4 linked regions of the Homo sapiens genome follow. The protein of the gene in region 3 purifies or fractionates together with the protein of the main gene of each other region. This does not show direct contact. Each region holds a gene or a part of one and is shown on either strand. Other genes may lie near its edges. The genes, in order: PPP2R2D, PPP3CA, PABIR1 and PPP2R2C.

The links.
Region 1: the proteins of PABIR1 (region 3) and PPP2R2D purify together in Homo sapiens (affinity purification with mass spectrometry; 4 studies listed by BioGRID and IntAct, with this or other methods). This does not show direct contact.
Region 2: the proteins of PABIR1 (region 3) and PPP3CA purify together in Homo sapiens (affinity purification with mass spectrometry; 3 studies listed by BioGRID and IntAct, with this or other methods). This does not show direct contact.
Region 4: the proteins of PABIR1 (region 3) and PPP2R2C purify together in Homo sapiens (affinity purification with mass spectrometry; 4 studies listed by BioGRID and IntAct, with this or other methods). This does not show direct contact.

The regions. Positions count from the first base shown.
Region 1 is NC_000010.11:131,939,005-131,946,040, forward strand, and holds part of PPP2R2D (serine/threonine-protein phosphatase 2A 55 kDa regulatory subunit B delta isoform), read left to right. Parts: intron 1-1,026; coding exon 1,027-1,192; intron 1,193-1,577; coding exon 1,578-1,690; intron 1,691-1,763; exon of another isoform or gene 1,764-1,788; intron 1,789-4,963; coding exon 4,964-5,141; intron 5,142-6,290; coding exon 6,291-6,455; intron 6,456-7,036. UniProt on the Homo sapiens protein: Substrate-recognition subunit of protein phosphatase 2A (PP2A) that plays a key role in cell cycle by controlling mitosis entry and exit. Involved in chromosome clustering during late mitosis by mediating dephosphorylation of MKI67.
Region 2 is NC_000004.12:101,092,513-101,099,548, reverse strand, and holds part of PPP3CA (protein phosphatase 3 catalytic subunit alpha), read left to right. Parts: intron 1-1,036; coding exon 1,037-1,182; intron 1,183-5,633; coding exon 5,634-5,773; intron 5,774-7,036. UniProt on the Homo sapiens protein: Calcium-dependent, calmodulin-stimulated protein phosphatase which plays an essential role in the transduction of intracellular Ca(2+)-mediated signals. Many of the substrates contain a PxIxIT motif and/or a LxVP motif.
Region 3 is NC_000009.12:68,783,017-68,786,090, reverse strand, and holds the end of PABIR1 (PPP2R1A-PPP2R2A-interacting phosphatase regulator 1), read right to left. Parts: 3' UTR 525-3,074; downstream 1-524. UniProt on the Homo sapiens protein: Acts as an inhibitor of serine/threonine-protein phosphatase 2A (PP2A) activity. Inhibits PP2A activity by blocking the substrate binding site on PPP2R2A and the active site of PPP2CA.
Region 4 is NC_000004.12:6,469,592-6,477,307, forward strand, and holds the start of PPP2R2C (protein phosphatase 2, regulatory subunit B, gamma), read right to left. Parts: upstream 3,024-7,716; 5' UTR 2,639-3,023; coding exon 2,569-2,638; exon of another isoform or gene 2,521-2,568; coding exon of another isoform or gene 2,493-2,520; intron 1-2,492. UniProt on the Homo sapiens protein: The B regulatory subunit might modulate substrate selectivity and catalytic activity, and might also direct the localization of the catalytic enzyme to a particular subcellular compartment.

The sequences.
Region 1 (7,036 bases), on a different chromosome or scaffold from region 3:
AGAAGCAGCCAGAGACAGTATGTGCACACATGGGCCTGACTGTGTTCCACTAACACTTGCCTTAAATACGGCAGGCTGCATTCAGCAGACCTGCTCCAGAAAACACGGCAGGCTGCATTCGGCAGACCTGCTCCAGAAAACACGGCAGGCTGCATTCGGCAGACCTGCTCCAGAAAACACGGCAGGCTGCATTCGGCAGACCTGCTCCAGAAAACACGGCAGGCTGCATTCGGCAGACCTGCTCCAGAAAACACGGCAGGCTGCATTCGGCAGACCTGCTCCAGAAAACACGGCAGGCTGCATTCGGCAGACCTGCTCCAGAAAACACGGCAGGCTGCATTCGGCAGACCTGCTCCAGAAAACACGGCAGGCTGCATTCGGCAGACCTGCTCCAGAAAACACGGCAGGCTGCATTCGGCAGACCTGCTCCAGAAAACACGGCAGGCTGCATTCGGCAGACCTGCTCCAGAAAACACGGCAGGCTGCATTCGGCAGACCTGCTCCAGAAAACACGGCAGGCTGCATTCGGCAGACCTGCTCCAGAAAATACGGCAGGCTGTATTTGGCAGACCTGCTCCAGAGAACACGGCAGGCTGCGTTTGGCAGACCTGCTTCAGAAAATACGGCAGGCTGCATTCAGCAGACCTGCTCCAGAAAACACAGCAGGCTACATTCGACAGGCTGAATTCGGCAGACCTGCTCCAGAAAATACGGCAGGCTGCATTCGGCAGGCCTGCTTCAGAAAATACGGCAGGCTGCATTTGACAGACCTGCTCCAGAAAATACAGCAAGGCTGCATTCGGCAGACCTGCTCCAGATGCATACCTAGAAGTGGAGTCGAAGAGTCGGAAATCAAGTTCGTTCTTTTTTTTTTTTTTTTCCCTGAGTTTCATCTGAGATTTTTTTGAGCCAGGATTTTTTAGCTTTAAAAAATATGTATGGTCATTTGATATTCAAATTTATAGTACTGAAATTTTCTCTACACTGTGCTTTGTTCATTAAAACAGCTCTCATGTTTCCTTGCAGAATAAAAGCCGCCCTCATTCTAGGGGAGAATATAATGTTTACAGCACCTTTCAAAGTCATGAACCGGAGTTTGACTATTTGAAAAGTCTAGAAATTGAGGAAAAAATTAATAAAATTAGGTGGTTACCACAACAGAATGCTGCTCATTTTCTACTGTCTACAAATGGTAAGAATTGTGTTCTAAGTGGCTGTTTGATTTAGTTTTTTATTTTTAATTTTCTGTGTGTGTGTAGATTCCTTTTTATTTTAGAAGTTATTCCTGCTTTAAATTTTGGGGGGAGGGTAAGTTATCTAGGGTAGCAAGTGATAGGTTGAAAATTCAAAGTATGCAACAAAAACCACACGTGCACTTTATTATGCTGTTACTCTGCACGTCTGCACATCTTTCTTTATTGTACAAAACACCTCCAATTGGAAATATTCATGTTCAGAGACCCCATAGCTTATAACCCAATATAGGACCACACCGCTTTCTAATACCAGTACTCAAACAGTAGTGATGCATGTTATAGTTTTTCTTTTCATATGGAGAATGAGGTTTTTATTTTCAGATAAAACTATAAAATTATGGAAAATAAGTGAACGGGATAAAAGAGCAGAAGGTTATAACCTGAAAGACGAAGATGGAAGACTTCGAGACCCATTTAGGATCACGGCGCTACGGGTACACGTTGCCTTTGCTTTATCCAATGCTGTTGAGAAGTTAAGAATAAACGTTTCAGTCTGCTGTCTGGAGAGTGCTGCGCGGTGGAGTACTGTGAGGTCTGCTGTGAGGTCTGCCTCGTGATTCCTGAAAGTCGTTTGCACTCATGTGTGTGTTTAAAAGCAAGGTCTTTCTCCTGTTTTCACAAAGGCAGAAAGTCACATGTGGTCCTTAGGAAACACAGCAATACTAAGGGGAAAACTCATATTTAATTCTACAGCAGAAATCTTTGTGGACATAGCAACCACCCTTCTCTCAGAAGGTTCAGAACAGCACCTGGGAGGTTGGAGTTCAGATGAAATTCAGAACACCTCACAGGTGCAGTAGCACAGGTTGCAGGTCGAAAGATGAGCTGTGGGCCACAGGTACATTCAGGACGCTTCTCGGGGAATTTCTTTGGGGTTGGTTTAGGCAGATGCTGATGGTTCAGAACTCTCCACCTGTCCATCCATGAGCATCATTACTTTTTTAATTGTTAAATTATTTGCTCCATTGTTGGTAGTATGAAATGATCATATTTCATCAATTCTGATGCCTAAATTTTTTCATATTTTAACATTTATGAAACCGGCTAAAACTCAAAACCTCAATGTCTTATAATTGGCCTGGTGCTACGCACCACTGATGTTGTCTTAAATTAGATGGAACATGGTGAAGGGTGTCCGGCAAACTGGGCTCGAGCCCAGGTGTGTCTTGGTGAGAAACCAGCACCTGTGCAGAGGTGTGTCCCCTGGAAGGAAACTCTGCCTGGTCCCAAGGGGGTGCCGTTACTAGATTGGAAAACCGTTGGTTGTTTGGGTGGTTGGGTGGTTTGGTTGCGGGGGGTGGGTGGTTGAGTTGGGTGGTTTGGTTGGTTTTTAATGAGATTTCAGCCCCTTTTACACTATTGTTTATCAAGTGAAGACTGAGTGAGTGAGCCCATTCCACATTAGTCTTGGAGAGTGCTACAGAGGACGCTGTACCGCAGAAGCCTTTCCCTAACACATGTGCCTCTGGGAGTGATGTTGGGTCTGTTCTGATGCCATTTCTCCAGCTTTGCCGTGTGGGGTGGCTACACCTGGGGTTGTGCATTCCTCAGGAGGAGTGTCCTCAGACTTCTCACATCGATGTTGTCACCGTATTTCCTATGAGTTCATCAAAGCGAGAAAGGCTGTGGCATTTGCTGAAAATCTAGTTTATAGGGTCCTAATTTGAACCAAGATGTTTTGATCCAAAATGTTGGTGATGTCTGATACACAGTGCTGCCGCCTTTGCACCCCTGAATTAGTGTAAATCACTTTTAGTGACAGTAACACGAGTTGTGCAGTTCCATCATCATGAAACTGCTGATCCTAAAGTAGAAGTGTGATGGGACCCCCGAGGGTGGGCACTTGACCCCCTCCAGCCTTGTCCATCTCTTCTGCAGCCAACACCACCTCCCACCCAGTTACCTGTGCACACCCCACCCTCAGAAACCCCTGTTCCTCCTGATCAGACCCTGCCACAACCCATCAGCTCACGTGCTCATTTTGGGAGAACAGTAGGCCTTTACTAGGCCCAGTCTTGGTTTTATTCAAGGCTGCTTTTGTAGGTTTAGCCTAAATAAAACGGGTATAATTGGTGGCCCTACTGAAGGTGTGTGAGAAGTCTAGTTATTTCATTAGTTGGTGCATGGGGAAGAGACCACAGACAGGTAATTCTGTACATTGACTTAGGTCGGTATTTGAGATCTTACCTCTCTAACAGTTCAGAGTGGGCTATTTATGTATCTGAGCCTAACTGGGTAAGAGTCAGACATGTTGCTGTTTTTAAATTTTTGCTCTTAAATTATTTTAGTGCCAGAAAAGGGATATAATTAAAAGAAGAAATCTTGGCCAGGTATGGTGGCTCATACCTGTAATCCCAGCACTTTGGGAGACCGAGATGGGAGGATCACTTGAGCCCAGGAGTTCAAAGACCAGCCTGGGCAACATAGCCAGACCCCATCTCTAAAAATGAAAGCAAATTATTTTATATGCAAATTAAAATGTTTTCAATAAAAGAAGGAATCTTTGTAAGTATTGCAGCTATCATATGTTTTGATTAATGGGAAATTTGTTAGAGGATTGGGGTAGGTGTGTGTTTTTAAGCCTGAACTTGGTAGAACTGACTCTTCTTGCTCTAGAGAATCCAAGGGTGTGGTCAGCACTACCTGGGTTAAAATGAGGGAAGCCTCCCTACACACACTTTTCCAAGTTGGTTTTTTACAGAATTCAGCCAGACAAGACTCAGTTGAGAGCTTTTCTTTTTCCCCTAAGCTTTCAAGGCTCTCCCTTTTGGTTTCTAATTACAAGAATAACAAAAAATACTATCATTAATTTTTTGTTTTGATTTTAAAGCTTATGTTTTTCTTCCAGCTGGATGTTAGTGAGACACAGGCCTTTTTCCTTTTTTCATGTGTGATGCTATTCCTCACGCCTGAGCTCTCACCTCTGACCATAGGCGGCCTGCAGCCAGCGCCCACTCCTCTCTGTCCTTTCTATTTCTGTGCGAATTGGGCTTCCCTAGGAAGCCTCCCTGACCACAGCACTCAACACAGAGATGGGGGCGGGAGGTACCTTCTACTTTTTGTTTTAACCTCAAGTGAAGTGTAATATATAATACATACCTCCAGATAAGACATCTGCCCTATAAGTGACCAGCTCCATGAATGTTTGTAGGGTGCACATGCCCATGTAGCCAGCCCCAGACCAAGAAATGGAATATCCTCAGCTCCCCAGCACCCTGCTGTGCACCCTGCCAGTACCTGGAGCCAGTGGAGGTTTGTGGGGTTTGCACCGAGAAGCATAGTCCTAGTGCAGTGAGAAGAGGTGTGTGCATCTAGCTGCAAGGAGAGGACAAAGGGAGGGGTGCAGCTGAGCCACCCAGGAGGACTTTGCTGTCCAGCGCCTCAGTGTGGCCACTGGAGGACACACAGGAGAGGGAGCCGCAGGCCTCGGTGCCTGGGCAGTTTGTTACCCTGCCAGCTGATCTTCTCTTCAGCAGGAACATGTCGACCTCGGTAATGGAAGCAAGGGGAAGACTTGGAATAGACAGTATTCCATTTTGTAGCATATTTTCATAACTCTGCTAATTGGTTATTTGGGGGTATTGCCTGTACAGAATTATTACTTAGCCATGAATATAAACTTGTCCTCTTTCGTTATCTACTATAAGTGTTCTAATTATGTGCTGCTGTGATCTTTGTTTTGAATTCCTATTTCCTTCCATTTTTAGGTCCCAATATTGAAGCCCATGGATCTTATGGTAGAAGCGAGTCCACGGCGAATTTTTGCAAATGCTCACACATATCATATAAATTCCATTTCAGTAAATAGTGATCATGAAACATATCTTTCTGCAGATGACCTGAGAATTAATTTATGGCACTTAGAAATCACAGATAGAAGCTTTAGTATCCTTCCTCAGAGGGACACTGGCGTCTTCCCGAGGGTGCTCTTTAGATAGTAATTTCTCTCGTCCCTTTATACACCTGTATCTCGGAGTCTAGTCTTGTAAATACCATCACTGCACAGCAGCCTGTGATGTAAGTTCTCTGTGATTTGAAATGTTTGTCCCTAAAAATACAAATTTCTTTCTACCTTTGGGAAAAAGTTATCTGTATAATGGGAATTACCTGAAGTCCACTGCCTGCCTGGTTTAATCAGAGGCAGTTTTAAATAGGCTACATTTGAAAAACCAACATTATGTGTTCTTTTTTTTTTTCTAAATTTGCTAATGAATAATAGAAAATACTGGCTTAGGTTAGAGCAGTGTTTAATCACCCATCTGAGCAGCAGCTTCCAGTTAGAACCTGTGTTCTTCTGTGGCTGTGCACAGTCTGGGTGGCCCCAGCCCTCCTCACATGGGCCCCTTTCCAGCCAGCAGCCGGGAGCATGGGGCTTGCTTCGTCTGCAGCCTCTCCAGGGTCCCTGCCGTCCTCCCTCTGCTGTCCAGTGGCTTGAGCTGGGGTTCCATGTCGTATGTTGGTTTTCTTAGTTGTTTCAGCTTGAAGGGTGAAACTGGGACTGCTAGTCTGAATTGGCCCACAGCTGAATTCTGCCCTTTCTTATTTTTTTCAGTTGAAGGATTTCTGTATAGGATTTCTGTTGGATCTGTTCTAGCTACACAGAATAAGCTCTTCATGTCAGGAAGAGCAGCATCTTTTGGAATTTGGCGGCATTCTTGTGTTGTAGTTTTGTGTGGGAGTGTGGGATTTTGCACAGATGGTACTAGCTTGGTTTTCCTATTTATATGATTAAGTATGTACTATCTTGCTATTAAGGGCTTTCTGTATAACATTAATAATAGCAGCAAGATGAAAGCGGTGTTCGCTTGTCTGTGTCTCCCCCTGGGCCGGGGCGTTGCTGTAGTCTGAGTGTGCTCATCCCAATCCCCTTACCAGGCGCTCCTTTGGAATTCGGGATGTGTAACCAGCCTTCTTAATAGCTAATCCCTTAAACCTCACTGCGTGGATTATTTGGCGTCCTATTTCGCGTGACTGAATGTAGACTAATTAACAACCAGCTGAGCTGAGCACTGTGCCTTAACCATGCACTCCCAGACATCGTGGACATCAAGCCTGCTAACATGGAGGAGCTGACCGAAGTCATCACTGCAGCCGAGTTCCACCCGCACCAGTGCAACGTGTTCGTCTACAGCAGTAGCAAAGGGACCATCCGCCTGTGTGACATGCGCTCCTCGGCCCTGTGCGACAGACACTCCAAGTGTAAGTGCGTCTGTTGTTGAGATGGAGTCTGGCTCTGTCACCCAGGCTGCGGTGCAGTGACACAGTCTCGGCTCACGGCAAGCTCCGCCTCCCGGGTTCCAGCAAGTCTTCTGCCTCGGCCTCCCGAGTAGCTGGGACCACAGGCAGGTGCCACCATGCCCAGCTAGTTTTTGTATTTTTAGTACAGACAGGGTTTCACCATGTTGACCAGACTGGTCTGACCTCAGGTGATCCCCCTACCTCGGCCTCCCAAAGTGCTGGGATTACAGGTGTGAGTCACCGCACCTGGTCACGCCTGGCGTCTTTTAAAGCATCTCATTTAGAGCCACTTGTTCTTCAGACACTCCAAAGACTTAGAGAGTTCTTCCTGTTCCCCAAGTGCCTTTGCACAACTGGGGAGCCCTCCTTTGCTGGGGCCGTCCGAGTGTGGCTGTGTCAGAGGCTGCTGCTAATAAGTGGAACTCGAGGTCATGCTTCCCACAGGCTTATGGCTGTAGGGTGAGTGTGCTTTTGGCACCACCGAGAAGCGGGGTCACTTCTGCCCAGAGCCTGGGTGTCTCCTCAGAGGCTGCCAGCACTGA
Region 2 (7,036 bases), on a different chromosome or scaffold from region 3:
AATAAGATACATACAATATGATCTATTGCCTAAAGTCAAAGACTTAAAGTGACACTCTTTCATATTATCCTATATTTCTTTCTAAGCATGGACATTTATGAGAATTCAGAATTTCTTTTTAAATTAGAACTTCTTTATAAAGTGATTGAAGAATTTGAATTAAGATTTGATGTAATTTATCCTAAGAAACAAGTGATTTAGGGATGCTACTGTTTGGAACAATAATTCTACTCATTAATCTCACATTACTCAAAAAACGCAAATGGAGGGCAAATTCAACCCTATGCCTCTGTTTTGGACCCAATAAATGAATACTAGCTTCTAGTGAATCTTATAAAACTGAAGATGATGTCATTCTTTAGACATAGACACTAGGAGTGTGGAGTGCTTTTTTCAATTTCTTTTTCCTCCTTACAATTTTTCTTATTATTCACTGAATCTTACAAAGGTATAAAACCTTACATTTTTGTTTTATGTATAAATACAGTTAAATGGAAGAGCTGGGAATCTCTCTATACATATCAATATTTTTCTCTTTCATTTAGTCCTATATTCAATGGAGCATAAAGACTTCTCCTCTTAAAACATTAGATATAAGTCATGGGAAAAGCAATGTGCAGTAAGATAGAAACAGCTTTAGGAAATGTCTTGCCATCTGCTTTTCTACAAAATCGTTAAGGAATATCAAGCAGCTTTATGGCTGTTTTTCTATTGGTCTTCCAGTTGTTCATGTACATTTTTTTGGTGAGACGTCTGCAGATAAATAGCCAGAATGTATATAAAAATTCTCTTGCTATACAAAACGTTATGAAAATTATAAAGTATGAATTAATAAATGACAAAAACAGGAAATACTAGATATAAAAGATTAATATGTTACTTTCAGAAAATCTTAATTATGTTTTGGAATTTTGTAGTATGTGCCTTTATGTTAATAATAGGGTCCTAGCAAGAAAACTTCTCAAAAAACCAAAACTATTTCAGTGAAATGATCCTGCCTATAAATCATAAGTATTCTTTTAATCACTTCTAAAAGGTAAAATAAAGTATTCAGAACGCGTATATGATGCCTGTATGGATGCCTTTGACTGCCTTCCCCTGGCTGCCCTGATGAACCAACAGTTCCTGTGTGTGCATGGTGGTTTGTCTCCAGAGATTAACACTTTAGATGATATCAGAAAAGTAAGTTTTGTTATTTTCCAAGTCTAATCATTTTGTGCGCTACAGTAATAAATAGAAGACATTAATTACCCTGCCTTTATCACTGACTTTATTCTTTTGAGTTCAAATAATTTAAAGTGGTCATGAATCGCTCCTTTGTGTTAAATTTTTATCTAGAAAGAGAGATATGTTTATACTTGGAAGAATTTTTATCTCTACAACCTCAGGGTTGGTCTTACCATCTGACATGTGTCTTTGGAAATATAAAATATTTGACCTCTAAAAAAAATATGCCTTATCATTTCCATTTGGCTTTTTTCAAACAATCCGTTGTATATTCATGATGTGTTATGCTAGAAATGTTGCTTTGCCCTTGGGAAAATATCATAACATAACCATTAAACTGTGCTCATTTTATGGTTTTTTAAAAATCTATTTGTTACAACTTGAGACTTTTAAGTAGCAATCTAACAAGGACAGTGATAATATTTTATTAATTTTACTGAGTGGCTGAGTGAAAAACTGGACTTTTTAAGAAGTATTTGTAAGAAGTTTTTAAGAAATACTCCAGTTTAGCATTGGCTATTAACAGTTGTTTAAACCAGCAAAAAGATGAGTTACATTGAATGTGGAAGTGGATTGTGTCTCTTTCTTGAGTAAATCTAGTAACATGGGATAGTTTTATGTAGTACAATAGATAGACAATCTTTTATTTCTTTGGTATGTTTCTAACTCTGATTGCAATGATGTAAAAGATAGAGAGTAATAAAAAATCGCAGTGTATTTTTCTTGGTGCCAAAATCGGACCAAAGGGAGAAAGTGATGTAAATGTTTTCTTAGGTCATTTTAAAATAATATTACTTGGAATTATTTTAAAGTATGATAATTTCTTCACATTGATATTTATAACATATGTTATTGAAAATTTGTGCCCACCATTAAGCTTTCTATCTAGGAAATCTAAGCCAAATTTTTTCTGGAGGAATTATAAACAGTTGAAAACTGTATTTATCTTCTTTCCTCTACTTTTAGAGACCTAAGAAAATACGCTTGTACTTATCCCATAGAACAGAGGGGTGAAAATAATTCTAACCTTTTATTATTATTCTCACCAGTAATTTTAGCAAGAATAAATTGGTCACATTGTTCTAAATTACTGTATTTGAACTATAAAGATTGGAATTTTGCTGAGATTTCTTCTAAAGATACATACTACTCAGTATATATTTAAGCCTAATGTATGATAGGTAGACTTTGGCTTCAAATAAGTGATGCACTAATCTCAAGGTGTACAGAATTTATTTCTTAAGTTATAGGTTCACTTAAGAATAACCATGGGCACAGTTCAAATTCTAGATCTTGCTTATCATTAGGGGCATTCATACAAAGACTCCCTTGGTGTCACTTGTTTGATTGATTGCCATTTAATTGTTTTTTTCCATTTCTTCTGAGTTTGGAAACTTGATTGCTAAGTCTGAGAAGTCTATATGATGAACATTTGCAAGTTAATTCTATCAGCTGCCATAAGTTATTAAATTAGTAAACAGTGTTTTCCCATTGTGTTCAGTGGAGAAGGAAAGCAAATATTTTATCTATTCATGTATCCATGTATCATATTAACCTGATAACCACTTATTGAAATAGGTTTGGAAAATGAAAAGTCAAATTACAAATAAGTATAGTAGTTTCTGTTAGCAAATGATGGGCATGAAAGACATGCATTTATGTTTTATTCTCTTGCCTTGATCAAATTTCATGGCCTTGGATGGAAGATGAGAAACTTACTAAGTGTCCTCCTTCAAAGGGGGATTAGTGAAAACTTCCCTCAAAATAGTGTTTTAATTATTTGAACAAAACTGATACACTGAATAGAGTTCTATACTGTAGAGAATAAATAGAAAGGATAAGGCTATTGTACTATTTTGTTTAAGACGCAATCACCAGCAAAAAGGTTGTAAACCTCTACTACAAAATGAATAACCATTTTCATATAGCTCTCATTTGTAGTGTTTCTTTAATACTTTTGTTAATGAAACTCATGGTTTTGAGGAAATACTTTAGTAAATTATGAATGTATTTGCATACCATAAGTCTCTACTACCATGAACTCAATATTCTTTTAAAGTTCATTAGTTTTTAGAGAAAAATTATTTTCAGGTAAAATAAAACATTCAAGTTCTTCCTATCATTGAGGTTCAAGTGTTCAAGTATAAAAATAATGTGTTTACTTTCCTATTGGAAAGAAAATGCATGCTTTTTATTTTAAAATTCAAGCGAAAGCACAATAAATAAACCTTGTTTCCTGCTCTGTGTCTTTGTGTCCATTTTTGCAAGACACTATTTCACACTTCTATAGAGCATAGAGCATTGGTCTTTGCTCTATATTTAAAGTACAGTAGAGATGTGATGCTGGTTCAGTATAAAATTGTTTCTTTCTGGGCCAAGCATGGTGCCTCACGCCTGTAATCCCAGCACTTTGGGAGGCCGAGGCAAGTGGATCATGAGGTCAGGAGTTCGAGACCGGCTTGACCAACATGTTGAAACCCCATCTCTACTGAAAATACAAAAATTAGCCAGGCATGGTGGCGCGCGCCTGTAATCCCAGCTACTCAGGAGTCTGAGGCAGGAGAATTTCTTGAACCTGGGAGGTGGAGGTTGCTGTGAGCCGAGATCGTGCCACTGCACTCCAGCCTGAGTGACACAGGGAGACTCCGTCTCAAAAACAGAAATGTTTCTTTCTGCATGAATATAACTAGCTCATTCTGTAATCTGATGGATTTTTTTTAAGTAAATAAACTTCACATCGTAAATTAAGTAGATTTTTTAAAATATCACCTAATATCCCTAGGACTTACTTCCCAGGATATTTTAGATATTATATTCAATTTTCATACATATCATTAAGCTCTGCACATGGCCAGAAAATGATTTTTAAGTTTTTATCTTGCCATATATCAAGTTTTTTTGTATTTGTTTATTTTTACTGTCAATTATATTAACTTTTAGAATGCACTGTATACTTTTTCCAGAATAAATGTTATATTCTGGTAGCTTTGCAGACCTTTAGTTGGGGATTCATATTAATCAGAAACTTTCCCCTCCTCTACTGTCCTACCCTTAATAAGTTATTGTTTTTCAGAAAGAAGTTCTGTATTTTTAGGGACAAGTATTATTTTTCTTGAATGTATTGTTCCAAGAGCATAAATTATTTAAATCTCTTAAACAAGTTTAAGTTTGCAATGAATATTTTGTGGCTAACATAATGGTTGAAATGTAGTCTTGTTTTATTGAAGTTTTTCATTGGGTATTGAAAACATAAAATATTGCCTCATTCTCTATAGATACTAATAAAAAGTAGTGTGCAACAAAACCATTACTTACATCTTGTATGTCCCAGAAAAAAAAAATAGACAATTTGATTAGTTGTAAGCAAAATATGTTCACTTGTCTTCATTGGATTTTTAAAAATATCAATATGAAGAATATCAATTCTTAATAGATTTTCAAAGCTATTGCATGCTTTTATTCAAGAGCCTTTATAATATCTGCTGATTCACCAAAGATCCTTTAATTGCAGTTAAATCAGGATAAACTAAAGTGTTTAAAATTGATCGTGATATGTTATTTCCAGTGATGATATTTCTAATATGCCTTCTAAATGCACCTTTTAAAATTGAAATGTGACTTCACTAAACATTTATAGCTGGAAAATTGATTTCATATGAAGGCTTCAGGTAAAATTATAAAGCTTAGAACTGTGAACTGAAGAATGACCCGCTAAAGTTGAGTTTATTTTACTGCTTATCATTACTCATATTTGTACCCACTAAGATCAACTACAGGAGGCTTGTAGTTTATCATTAGAAACCTAGATAGCCCATAATGAAATAGTATCCAAAATATCATATAGCAAGTGGCTACTTTTAAAGTAAAAGCCATCTTTTCTCAAAATCATGTTCTTAAATATAAAAAAATAACATAAGCATGAAAACTAGGAGTTGTTTTCCATCCAAACTTCTAAATCACAGTTTAATAGAGGCAGTAATAGGAATTTTCCCAAAGAAAGTAATTCTCAATAAATGAAACAGGGGTAGAGTCATAATAACTGGTCATGAAAAAAACATTTGGATAGATAAAGTAAGTAAGGAGAGAAGGATAAAATGTAGAATAGGAGAAATGAGAAACTGCGAAATCTAGAGATAATAGAGGCAAGAGGAAGGTAAAGGGTTAGATGAAGATAGATACTAAATGATCTCATCAGAAGGAAGCTGGAAAGAAAATTGGAGAGAGATGAAGGATAGGAAAACGAGTAGGAAGAAGGACAGGAAGAGAGAGAGAGGTAGAGGACATTTCACCCTGAGCTGTAGCTGGGGAGAAGAGGATGGGTTCTGCACAGTGCTTGTTTCTTGTATTGTCAGAATTCTAAGTTTCCAAAGATTAGTATTTTGCTCTCTGTCTTCTATTTTTCTTAGTTAGACCGATTCAAAGAACCACCTGCATATGGACCTATGTGTGATATCCTGTGGTCAGACCCCCTGGAAGATTTTGGAAATGAGAAGACTCAGGAACATTTCACTCACAACACAGTCAGGGGGTGTTCATACTTCTACAGGTAAGAATAGAGAACTTGCTCTCTGGAACACGTTTGCATCATAATGCTAGGATTTATCAGTCCATGTGTTTGATTTATTTATAATGTTTGTATTACTTCTTTAATATAAATGAAAGGCTCACTAGCATTTATAAAATGAAAATATAAATAAATGAATAAGTGAGTAAATAAATGTGAAATAGATATGTATACATATACAGGTGTACCTTGGGGATGTTAAGGGTTTGATTCTAGACCACCACAATAAAGCAAATATTGCAATAAAGCAAGTCATTATTTTTTTGGTTTCCCAGTGCATATAGAAGTTATGTTTACACTATACTGTAGTCTATTAAGTGTACAATAGCATTGTATCTAAAAAAAAAAAAACAAATGTACATACCTTAATCAGAAAATACTTCATTGCTAAACAATGCTCATGATCATCTGAGCCTTCAGCTAGTCATAATCTTTTTGCTGGTGGAGGATCTTGCCTCGATGTTGATGGTTACTGACTAATCAGGGTGGTAGTTTCTTTCTCAAAAGAAGACATTTATGTGGCCAAAAAACAATGAAAAAATGCTCATCATCACTGGTCATTAGAGAAATGCAAATCAAAACCACAATAAGATACCATCTCATGCCAGTTAGAATGGCGATCATTAAAAAGTCAGGAAATGGATGCTGGAGAGGATGTGGAGAAATAGGAACGCTTTTACGCTGTTGGTGGGAGTGTAAATTAGTTCAACCATTGTGGAAGACAGTGTGGCGATTGCTCAAGGATCTAGAACCAGAAATACCATTTGACCCAGCAATCCCATTACTGGGTATATACCCAAAGGATTATATATCATTCTACTATAAAGACACATGTATATGCATGTTTATTGCAGCACTATTTACAATAGCAAAGACTTGGAACCAACCCAAATGCTCATCAATGATAGACTGGAGAAAGAAAATGTGGTACATATACACCATGGAATACTATGCAGCCATAAAAAAGGATGTGTTCATGTTCTTTGCAGGGACATGGATGAAGCTGGAATCCATAAGAACTATTATTTTTGCCCCAATGCAACAAAGTATCACAAGAACAGAAAACCAAACACCTCATGTTCTCACTCATAAGTGGGAGTTGAACAAAGAGAACATATGGGCACAGGGAAGGGGAACATCACACACCAGGGCCTGTCAGGGGGTGGGGGGCTAGGGGAAGGATATTATTAGTATAAATATCTAATGTAGATGACGGGTTGATGGGTGCAACAAACCGCCAGGGCA
Region 3 (3,074 bases):
TCTAAAATCTGGAAGGAAGAAGTAGTCATTAGAGAAGGATCAGTATTTCTGATTTCTAGAAGGGGGCTATCACCTATAAAAAGAAGAATAAGGCTTGTTTTGCATTTGCCAAAGGTGGACTTGAATTGAATGGTGGAAGTTAGAGGGAAATGTCTGTTCACTATAAGAAAGGCTAACATCAGAAACAATCGCTTCATAAAAGGATAGCCTGCTTTGAAGGATATTGTACTGTTAACTGAGTGTGAAAGCAGGAGTTTCATCCATCAAGGATGCTAATTGCCCAGCATCTTTGTAAGCACATTGTGTACGAACCCATTCAATCCTCACCACAGCCACCCTGCTCCACTGTCTATATTCCTAACCACCACAATTCGCTGCCTACCTCCCAGCTCTGGAATCCTGGGCAAGTAACTCAACCTGTGTCTCCATTTCCTCATTTATAAAATGAGGATAATGATAGCACTTGCCTCAGATGATAGTGATAGATTAAATGCATTGATATATTTGCTTAGCACTTAGAACAGTCCCTGACACATAGCAAGTATTTTATTACTTTTTATACAAAGGTCATTTCAACTTTTAAGAAAATTTTTTTACTTGGATGGCAAGTTACAGAAGCCACAAAGAACTCTGTCTTGGCTACAGTGAGCAATCTGACACAATTTTTTACCAAGTAAGTGGCACTCAAGGCTTGCCTTCAGCCCTGATTCTCTAACAGCCATGAAAAATGTGGGCAAAACTGCTGGAGTGAGAGACCTACATTGAGACCAGATTCTCTATACTTTGTCATGGCTGATAAGGTAAAGCCCTGAAAAAAGTGGTCTAGTCCATAAGCCTCTGCTCCCTTCTCTTATCCTCAATGCCTCAGCCAATCATTCAAACTACACTTTCAGCAGAACCCTTAACTACTTCACACACTGGGCTTTACCTAGTACCCACTTAACCAATTCCCAAACCTAGTCAATCCAACCCACTTCCTTGTGCCTGCCATCCAACTGCAACCTGGCATCCATCATAGCCTAATAAGCCTTCTACTTGTCCTTAACTTACTCCTTTAGATTCTCAGAGGCAACATTAAACCTTTACTGCACTCAAGCTTCCAAATGATCTCCTGTCCCTATCCTCATGTATCTTAGATTCCTCAATAATTGGAAAATAGGCACAATCAGAAACAAATTCTACTTTTCATATACCTACCTCCATACTCCTAAACCCCTGCAACAACAAATCAATTCAACATTTATGGATATCTTTGCCTAGCCTTTTCACTCTCCCTCCTGTTTCAGAAGAAAAATAAGTTTCCAGACCTCCTTTCCAAGGCCAACTCTTTCTTCTGTTCTCTGGTGCTACTCAAGAAATGATCATCATCTTCTTGGTTCAATTGTCTGGCAACCATTCCCCTGACTCCCACCTCTGTTAGATCTTCAAAATTGTTCTACTAATCTATAAACACACCCTGAAAAAAAATGTTCTCAGACTCACTTTCCTCATTTAAGTCTTGATTCCTTCCCCAATTTTATTGCCAAATAAACTGGTCTCTTGCTACAGGTATGTAACTGGTTGAACTAATAAATGTGAATCACTGGAAGGCAATCTGATACAAGTTATTCTTGATTACAATCAATCTTTTAAGTATGCTTAAGGGTCCTAACATCCAGCAGCCTTGGAGTTAATGATCTTTAATGATTTCTCCCATTTATACTGTGTTTTTAACAAGCATAATAAAGGAAAATATACCAGAGGTTTATTAAGTATGACAAACTGTACTTTAAATAAATGTTGCTATTGACTTTAGGACTTCTTGCACAAAGTTTATAGATTAGCAATACTAATACCTTAAAAATGCTTTTTGAAGGATAATTCTTACACGAGCTAAGTAAGCCCTTACAGTCTACAGAATAATGATGGACGTTATGAACAATACTATGATAACGTAAATTGTCCACATGCCCTTAGAACCTTATCTGATTTAAAAACTTCCCATCTATATAGAAGAATAAGCTTACAGAAATAATGTTTCCATACCTTCGGGGAAAAGGATCTAAAATAGGAGAGAACATGATGTATTTAAGGAAAAGAAAGGCAAGCCAGTGAGGGCGAAGCACAGAAAACGAGGGGGGAGGAGGGAAGGACCAAATTCCTCAGGGCCTCCTAGCCCAGAATTAATACATTTTGGCATACTCATGAGAACAGGAAGCAAATGAAAAGCGTTCAGCTGGGAGATGGAAGGATCAGGTCCGCAATTTTAAAAGAATGACTCTAGTTGCTGTATGGAGAATGAATGGATAGCCGACCAGAGTGAGTGTGAGGAGCACAAGTGGGAGTTAGGAAGTTGCTTCAGAAGCCTAAGAGGGAAATGCTGGTAGCCTGGATCAGAGTGGCAATAGAGGTAGAAATAAGGAGATAGATTCTAGCTGATAAAAATCAGTAAGACTTGAGGAATGATTAGATATGGGGAAAAGTAAAGAAGAGAGGTGTCAATGACATGTTGGTTTCCTGCATTTATATACATATATACATGGAAATGCCAGTAACACATCTTGTACAATAGATATCAAGTTGTTAACAGAAGTTATCTGTGGAAAGGGAAGATGAATTTTACATAATTAAAAGCAGACTTTTAAAACCACACAGATATGTACAATGTTTAAATATTTTACAATCAGCAGGTATACATTGCCTTCATACTTAAACTCACGTGCAATTTGCCTCCCTGAAAAGGATAGGAATTATCCCAAAGAACAGACACAAGAAAAGTACATGACATATTTAAAGAATATCAAGTGGTCTAATGTTTGCAGAATAAGAAGGAAAGATGTATACTGGAACAGAGATGAGGAGAGGATTGAAGCTATTTCAGAATATGGCCAGATCATAAAGGTCCTTCTATCTGAGGCTAAAGAAATCATTCCTTAAAGAGTAGGAAATGGGGAAGCAAGTGAAGTTTTCAAGCAAGAGGGCGAAAAATATCAAGTTTAAATTTCAGAAAGATTACTCAAGAGGCAGTATAAAGACTGAACCAAAAGGAGACAGAAGACAGGCTGGGAGATCACTCAGGCAAGAACTTAAGGCAA
Region 4 (7,716 bases), on a different chromosome or scaffold from region 3:
CAGCAACCCTGTATGAAAGGTCGTTATTATTTCTCCCTTTACAAAGGGAAAGTGAAGCTCAGGAAGGTGTAGTAACTTGTCCAAGGCTGCACAGCAGTCAGGAGTCAGAGGCAGGACTTTAACATGATTCAAGTCTGACATTCTGACATTCAAATCTGTGACCTTCCCTGTGCTCTGAGCATGAAATATAGTCAGGATGCAACAGTGTGAAAGTGTGTTTTTCATTAGGGAGGCCAGAATTCTACCTATTATAATGATTATTATTGTTTCTTGTTCCGATCCTGCTCTCTGCATCCGCAGCACCTGAGCCCTATGCCCTGCACACACTGGCACTCGGTCTGGACCAGGCACAAGGCCAGGCCTTGGTTTGTTCATCTCAAGGTGGGGATAAGGCGTAGGTGAGCCTTCGTATGAGGTCCCAGCACACAGCAGGTGCTCAGCATCCTTTGGCTGCACGTTAGCAATGCATAGCTCTGAACGGCTCCTTCAACACCGTTGCACCTGCTCCTCACAGAAACCTCCAGACCCTGTAGGCAGGATTCACTCCCATTTTACAGATGGGGAGACTGAGCCCTGGTGAGAAGACAGACCTCAAGGTCATATAGCTCCCTGATAGAATTCAGGCCGCACAAGGGCAGGGAGTCTTTGTCCAGTCCCCAGGGATAAAACAGTGCCCGGCATGCAGCAGGTGCTCGGTAAATATCTCGTGTCTGGATGAAGGATTGGATAGCACTGCTCTGACCTCCAGAACTGTGCCGTCCCCGTTCCTGTGCCCTGCTGAGGGCTGGTGAATTTATGAAAGAAAAGGGGACGGGCAGGGTGCAGAGGGAATTAATGTTTGAAAATGTCCACCATGGCGCTTTTTACGCCTGGTCCCACAACGAGCCCTGCGCCCCATCCCACCGTCATCCCCAACGTAGAGATGAGCAAACAGAGGCTTGCTCCAGGAAGCCAGACCACAGCGAGCCTGGGAGCAGCGGGGCAACCTGCCAAGATCCGCTCTCGGCCCGAGCCAGGCCACCGAGGCACGGGCCAGCAACCCGGCGGCTTCCTCCAACCCTCTGTCGCTGCAGGCTGCGAGCAGAAACCACATCCCGGACCCACGCTGATCCCGACTCAGCCTCGCCGAAGCAGGCGACAAAGGACCGCTCTCAGCTCCCCGGGCCTCCCAAAGCCGCGGCCGGGTCAGAGCCCCACCGGCCCGGAGGCCCGGGCAGCCCTGCCCCTCTCTCGCACACACCCGGCGGCGAAGCGTGCGTGACTCAGCGGTTCTCCCGCCGGGAGCGGGCGCGGCCCCCGCAGCCTCCCTCCGCCCAGGTCCCACGCCCAGCCTCTGCCTCCCGGGCCAGGGCGCCCCGAGCCCGCCCGCGCCCGCGCTCGCGCTGCGCTCCCCGGGCCTCCGCGGGGCTCCGGCTCCGCTCGGCCTCATTTCCGGCAGAGCCAGGCTTCGAGGAGGCGGACCCAGCCGCAGGAGCCCGGTCTCCGCCGCCTGGCCCACTCGGTCTCCCTGACACAGGCACCCACGCGCACCTGCCCCGCGGGACCCGTGCCCAGGGCCCCTCCCACTGGGGCACCCACCCGGGGAATCCGCGCACACTTCTGCGGCCGGGCCGCCAGCCCGTGGGTTAGCGGCTGACAGTCCCCGCACTCGGGCAGGGCTCCAGCACAGGCGGCCCCGAGCCCAGACCTCCCGGTCCCCATCCTCCATCGGGGTCACTCCGCGGGCCCTGCCTGCGCACGGAAGCTGTCCCCACTGTTCCCCTAGCGAGGCAGACCAGGGGGCCCCCGGAAGTTCCAGGCCTGTAAGAGAGGGGCGCTGACCCACCAGCCTCGGGGGTAGGGTGGGGGTGGGGGTTGGGCTTGTAGGGCCAACTTAGGGGATTTTAAACAGGGCCTGTTTGGGATGGCATGTCCCACTTTTTTGGAAAATCCCGACAGTTAGCCCAGCTGCTCCTGTCTCAATATAACTCACCAGGAATAAAAAGGCCAGCCCCAAACCAGCCGCCTTCTCCCTCCCACTCAGGGACCCTGCCTCTGGAGGACAGGGAGGGGCCCGGGCAGGCGGGCCTCCCAGGAGGATCTGGCAATGGATTATGTTTTTTTCCCCCCGGGTCCCTCTTCTTCTCCAGGGAGAGGGCAGCCTAGAAAATTCTGCGGGCTTTGGGCAGGGCTGAAATGGCAAATCCAGGATTTAAACCATTAAATTTCCCCGAGATTTCTTCACCAGATTAGCCACAGCCGTGGCCTTTTAAAAAATTATGGTCAGGGCCGAATCAGGATGCCACCTGGCTTGGGAGAGGAAAGCTGCCTCCCGGAGGGCGGCGCGGAGGAGGGCGCTGCCCTGTGCCGGCGCTGGGCAGCGGAGGCCGGTACCCTCGGGCTCCCTCCCTCCTGGGCCCCGGGCAGGGTGGGATGGGATGGGGTGGGGTGGGGTGGGATGGGGTGGGGTGGGGTGGGGCGGGGGGACACGACACACATCGCGCGGTCCAAACCTTCGGAGGGCATTCGGTGCGACGGCATCCCCACGCCGCGGCCGGCCGGAGGGGTCTCAGACAACACGTACGTTACCTTCAGTCACATAGCTGTGGTCCCGCAGGAAGCTGTGGTTAATTTTCCGCGTGTCCGTGTCCTCGCCCATTGAAGGCCGTGCCCGGTGCTCTGGGCATGCCCCGCCGCCACACACCGATGCAATCCGCAGAGGTCGCGCCGGGCGCGCGGGCCATGCCGCCGCAGCCTAGCAGGGGCGCGGGCCGCCGGGGCCCCGAAGGGAGGGCATCGCGGCAGGGGGACGGGCGGGGGCGGCCGGGGGCGGGCGCCGCGGTCAAGCGAGCGCGCGGTGGGCGGGCGGCGGCCGCGGGTTCGGGCGGGCCGGGGCCCAGGCGCGCATCCCGGCCGGCCCGTGCGCGCTGCGTCCGTGCGCCCGGCGGCGGGGCCTGGTGCCGGTGCGCCTGGCTGCGGCGACGGCGGCGAGGGGACGCGCGCGGCGCTGCGCTGCGCCGACCAAGCCGGGGCCGAGCCGGGCTGCGCGGGCTGGGGCCGCCGCCGCCGCCGCTGTCGCAGGCCCCTCCCTCGCGCCGCCCGCTCTCCGCCCCCGCGGCCCTGCAGGTGGAGCCGGCGCCCAAGCCGAGGCTGCACCGCCGTGCTCGGGCCCTCGCGGTGGGCACCTTGGTGCTGGGTGCGCCACGGGGGAGGGAGGAAGGAGACCGCCAGCTTGCGGGGAGAGGGTGATCAGCTGAGCTTGGGGGGAGGGTACCTTGGGTGCCCAGGTGCTCCAGTTATGGGAGAGAAGGCCAAGAGCCGGGGTGCTGGGAAGGGGGCAGGAGGAGAGCAGCCTCGCAGGCAGAAGGCAGAAAGGACTAGGAAGGAAGGAGTGGGGTCGCAGTTGAAGAGGGCGCACCTGGAGAATGGGGACTCGGGGGAGGGGAAGGACACTGTCTCCCTTCATTAGTAGAAGAGGGTGGGTCGCGCAAGTTCTGGGGCCCGTTGGGAGCATTAAGTACATGTGAAGAAGCTGGTGGAGGGGGTCCAGCAGCCGACAAGGCAAAACTGGATGAAATGGCTGGAGGGGTGATTGGGCCTCCCCCAGGCAGGGCTCTGAGATCTCTCCTCATGCCCACCTCTCCTGACGAGTGAGAAAGTTAAAGAAATACAGAGCTAGGTACCTCCAAAACCAGGCTGGAAAATGCGTCCCCCTCCTCCCTTCCCTCCCTCCCCTCCAAACCCAGGGCTCTGCCAAACAGGAACCTCCCTCTGGTAATCAGCCTGGCACATAGTGGGCCCTCAAAAAATATTTGCCTCCTGTTTTGCCAAGCTGCCACCTCCTCCACCGTGACCCACCGCCTAATGAATCACAGTCCCCTGCACGGGACACAAGCCCCAGTGGGGATTCAGAGGTGTGGGTGAGGAACCATCAGCCCTCCCTAGGAGCTCAACAGAGCCTTCCTGGAAAGCGAGGGACTCTGTGGCTTGCCTGGGAGGGGTAAGTGCAGTGGGGTGACCAGAGCTGCAGGGGCTCTTGGGTCTAAGGCATCAGTGGAGCCATGCTCCAGGTGGGGGCTGGTCTGTAATGGCCTCCACTTGTTTCAAATGGTTCTGGGGGAACTCCAGACAGCTCCCCAAACTGCAGTGGAGGTAGGAGAGTCCAAAGGCGTTGGGGGCAGGGAGACTGGGGCTGTGGGAAAGACGAGGGAAGGTGATGCCGTCTCAGATTTCTTGGAGATTGAGAGGGAGTTTTTGAAGCTACAGCTTTCGTGCCTTTGAAATCCCCAGAATGGACCTATGAGGAGATGAAAGCCCCCCAGCAGCCCCACCAGCACTCTGCAGGCTGTCATGCAAGGGCTGGCCTGGGGAGAGGCCCTGGGGCCCTGCCAGCACCTGCTTTGGCAAGTGCCCTGCCCTGTTCCAGCCTCTACCTTTTCACTGTGGAACAAGCCAAAATCTCCCAGCTGTGCAGACTCCATTCAAGGACCAGGTAAATGCAAGGGCCGGAAGGATGTGCTTGTTCTTTGTCACTTTCTACCCCGTAGGAAAGTGACCGACACCCACATTGGCCCCCACCCACCTGGCATGTTCTCCTCTCTCTCTCTCACCTGTCTGCTCACATGCCCCCCACCTCACATCCTAAGGCCAGCCCCCCACTCTCTGTCCACACCCCCTCACCTCTCTAGCTGGAGCCAGCAAAATGGCTATGCTGGGAGAAAGACAGGCTGGGTTCAAGTCCTGACCACAAGGGGGCCCAGGCACAACCTCATCTGTAAAGTGGATGTGATGGCAGGAGTGGCCCCACTGGGTTGGGGTGGCCAGTCCTGCTCAGCAGGGGTCAGGCCTCCTGGGAGCTCTCTTGTTATCATGCTGAGGCCCACCCTCCCGCATGTTCCTCAGCCTCCCTCTCTGATCATGGAGAAGTCCCCTCTCCCTATCTGTCAATCCTGCCAAAACACCCACCCTATGCTGGCATCAGCCTCATCTCCCGGGATGTCCTGGACTACAATGAAAACAGCCCCACTCTGGCCTGACACAGTACATCATCCCTTTCATCAGCTTCTGAGCCATGCTGGGGACCCTGCAGTGGGTGGTCTTTCCAACCTGACTGGGCCCCAAGGCTTGCATCCATCCCCTCCTCACCCCTCACCACCCCATCCTGCCCCACCCCCACCACAAGCAGTGTCTGGGCTCCTCCACACTGTCTCCTCCATTTCCTGGAAGCCCTCCCCCTCCAGCACAACCGAGGACTCTCCCTCAGCCCCCTGCCCACCCCCCACCTCCACTAAATCACACAATCTGCTGCTTCCTCATCTGTATCTGCACACAGCCCTGCCCCCGCTGACAGAGCCTGAGCTCCAGATCCTGCCACCCCCAGCCTCTCTGTACAGACTCCTCTCTGTACTTTCATTCATTCAATGAGGAATGTTTATTGAGCATCTACTATGTGTAGGCATGTTCCCAGCACTAGGGTAGTGTGGAAGACAGAATAGAGAAATGCTCTGCTCTCGTGGAGCTGGCCTCCCAGTGGGGTGAGATGGACAGCATAAAGTGAGCATGTACTGTGTGGGCCATGACTGGTGCAGAGGAGAAGGCGGGAATGGAGATGGAGATGAACGGGGATGGAGATGGGGATGGAGATGGAGATGAAGGCGGGGATGGAGATGGAGATAGAAAGGAACGGGGAGGAGGAGGTGCCATTTTATAAAGGTGAGTGTAGAGGAAAGCTCAATAAGGTGAAATTTGTCAGCATCTCTCCAGATGCTTCTCACAGCGTAAGCCTGCTTGGGTCTCTTCCACATTCAAAAGCTATCCTCACTCCGTGTCCCTTCAGCCACCAGCACATTGCATTTCTGCCATTCACAACCACAATGCCAAAAGGGTACAGCTACACTCGCCATCTCCTCACTCACTGCCGTGCCCTCCAACCTGGCTTCTTGCCATCCATCCCACCCCAGAAAAGAAACTTGTGTCAGACGGCATGAGAATGACTTTCCTGTTCCTGGAACCAGTGGACGCATGCTGGCCTCTCTCTATGCTGAGTTCTCGTGGTCTCACCCTGTGGACCATGCGCCTCCCTTTACTTCAGTGGCACCACCTTTCGCTGCCACTTCTCAGCAGGTTTACATGCTCCACTCCTTCTGACGGCCCCACCAGGCTATGTCTCCCTGTGCTTCTGTGCCCCCAACTTGTTGTAATTGACAGAGAGAACATGCATGGAAAGTGTGCTGTGCACCGCACCATGTCCCCTCAAGTGCACAGGCTGAAGCCCTAACCCCCAATGTGATGATGTTTGCAGGTGGGGCCTTTGGGAGATTTGGGTTAGACAAGGCCATGAGGGTGGGGTCTTCATGGAGAGATTAGTGCCCCTATAGGAAGAGACCAAAGAGCTTGCCCACTCTCTCCCCAGGTGCTCACGGGAGCACACGGCGAGACAGTGGCCGCCTGCAAACCAGGAAGGGGCCTCACCATGAACCAGATTGGCCAGAACCTTGATGTTGGACTTTCCAGCCTCCAGAACTGGGAGGAAGTACATTTCTGTTGTTTACGCCACTTATCCTATCTTGTTTATTATGGCAGCCCAAGCCGACTGCACAAAAGTTAACTGTTCAGCTTGAAGAACGACCACAAAGTAAACACTCATCTAACCACCAAGTCAGGAAAGGGCGCTAGCCACCTCTCGAGGCCTCCCTCACTCCCCTCTCTCTCCACTTCCATGGACTGAACAGCTGTTGACTCCCAAAATTCATATATTGAAATCCTGTCCCCTAATGTGATGGTTTTAGGAGGTGGGGTCTTTGAGAGGTGATTAGGTCCCAAGGGTGGGGCCCTCATAATGGGATTAGCCGCCTTATAAGAAGAGACGTGAGAGAGTTTGCTTCCCCTCTCTGTCCCTCTCCCTCTCTCTCTGTCATATGAGGACACAACAAGAAGTTGGCTATCCACAAATCAGGAAGCCCTCATCAGACACAGGATCTGCCGGCACTTTGACCTTGGACTTCCCAGCCTCCATTACTGTGAAAAATAGATTGTGGTTTATGCCGTCCAGGCTACAGTATTTTTGTTCTAGCAGTCCAAACTGACTAAGACACCACCCCAAAGATAACCCCCATCTTGACTTTTAACACTGTAGTTTTACTAGTTTACTAGTAAATTGTAAGGTAGGAATGTTTTCATAACTGCTTTCATTTGCACAATGTTTTTTTTCTGAGAAGCACTCATGTTATTTATATATATGTAACTGTAATTTATTCATTTTTCATTGTTGTGTAATATTCTATGGCAGAAATACACTGCAGCTGACCCCACTGTTGTTGGGCACATAGGTTGTTTGTTCAGTGTGGAGGCTAATTATGAACAACAATTCTGTGGCTCAGCATTCATGTGTACACAATTCTGGGAACTGGCTGGGTGCAGCAGTTCATATCACCAGCACTCTGGGAGGCTGAGGCAGGCAGATTGCTTGAGCCCAGGAGTTCAAGACCAGCCGAGGCAACATGGGAGACCCCGTCTCTACTAAAAAAATGCAAAAATTAGCCAGGCATGGTGGTGCATGCTTGTGGTCCGAGCTACTCGGGATGCTGAGGATCACTTGAGCCTTGGAGACAGGGGTTGCAGTGAGCCAGGATGGTGCCACACTGCACTCCAGCCTGGGCCACACAGCAAGATTCTCTTCAAAAGAAATTCTAGGAATTGCTGAGTGATAGGGTCTGTTTGTTTAGCTTTAGTCATGGA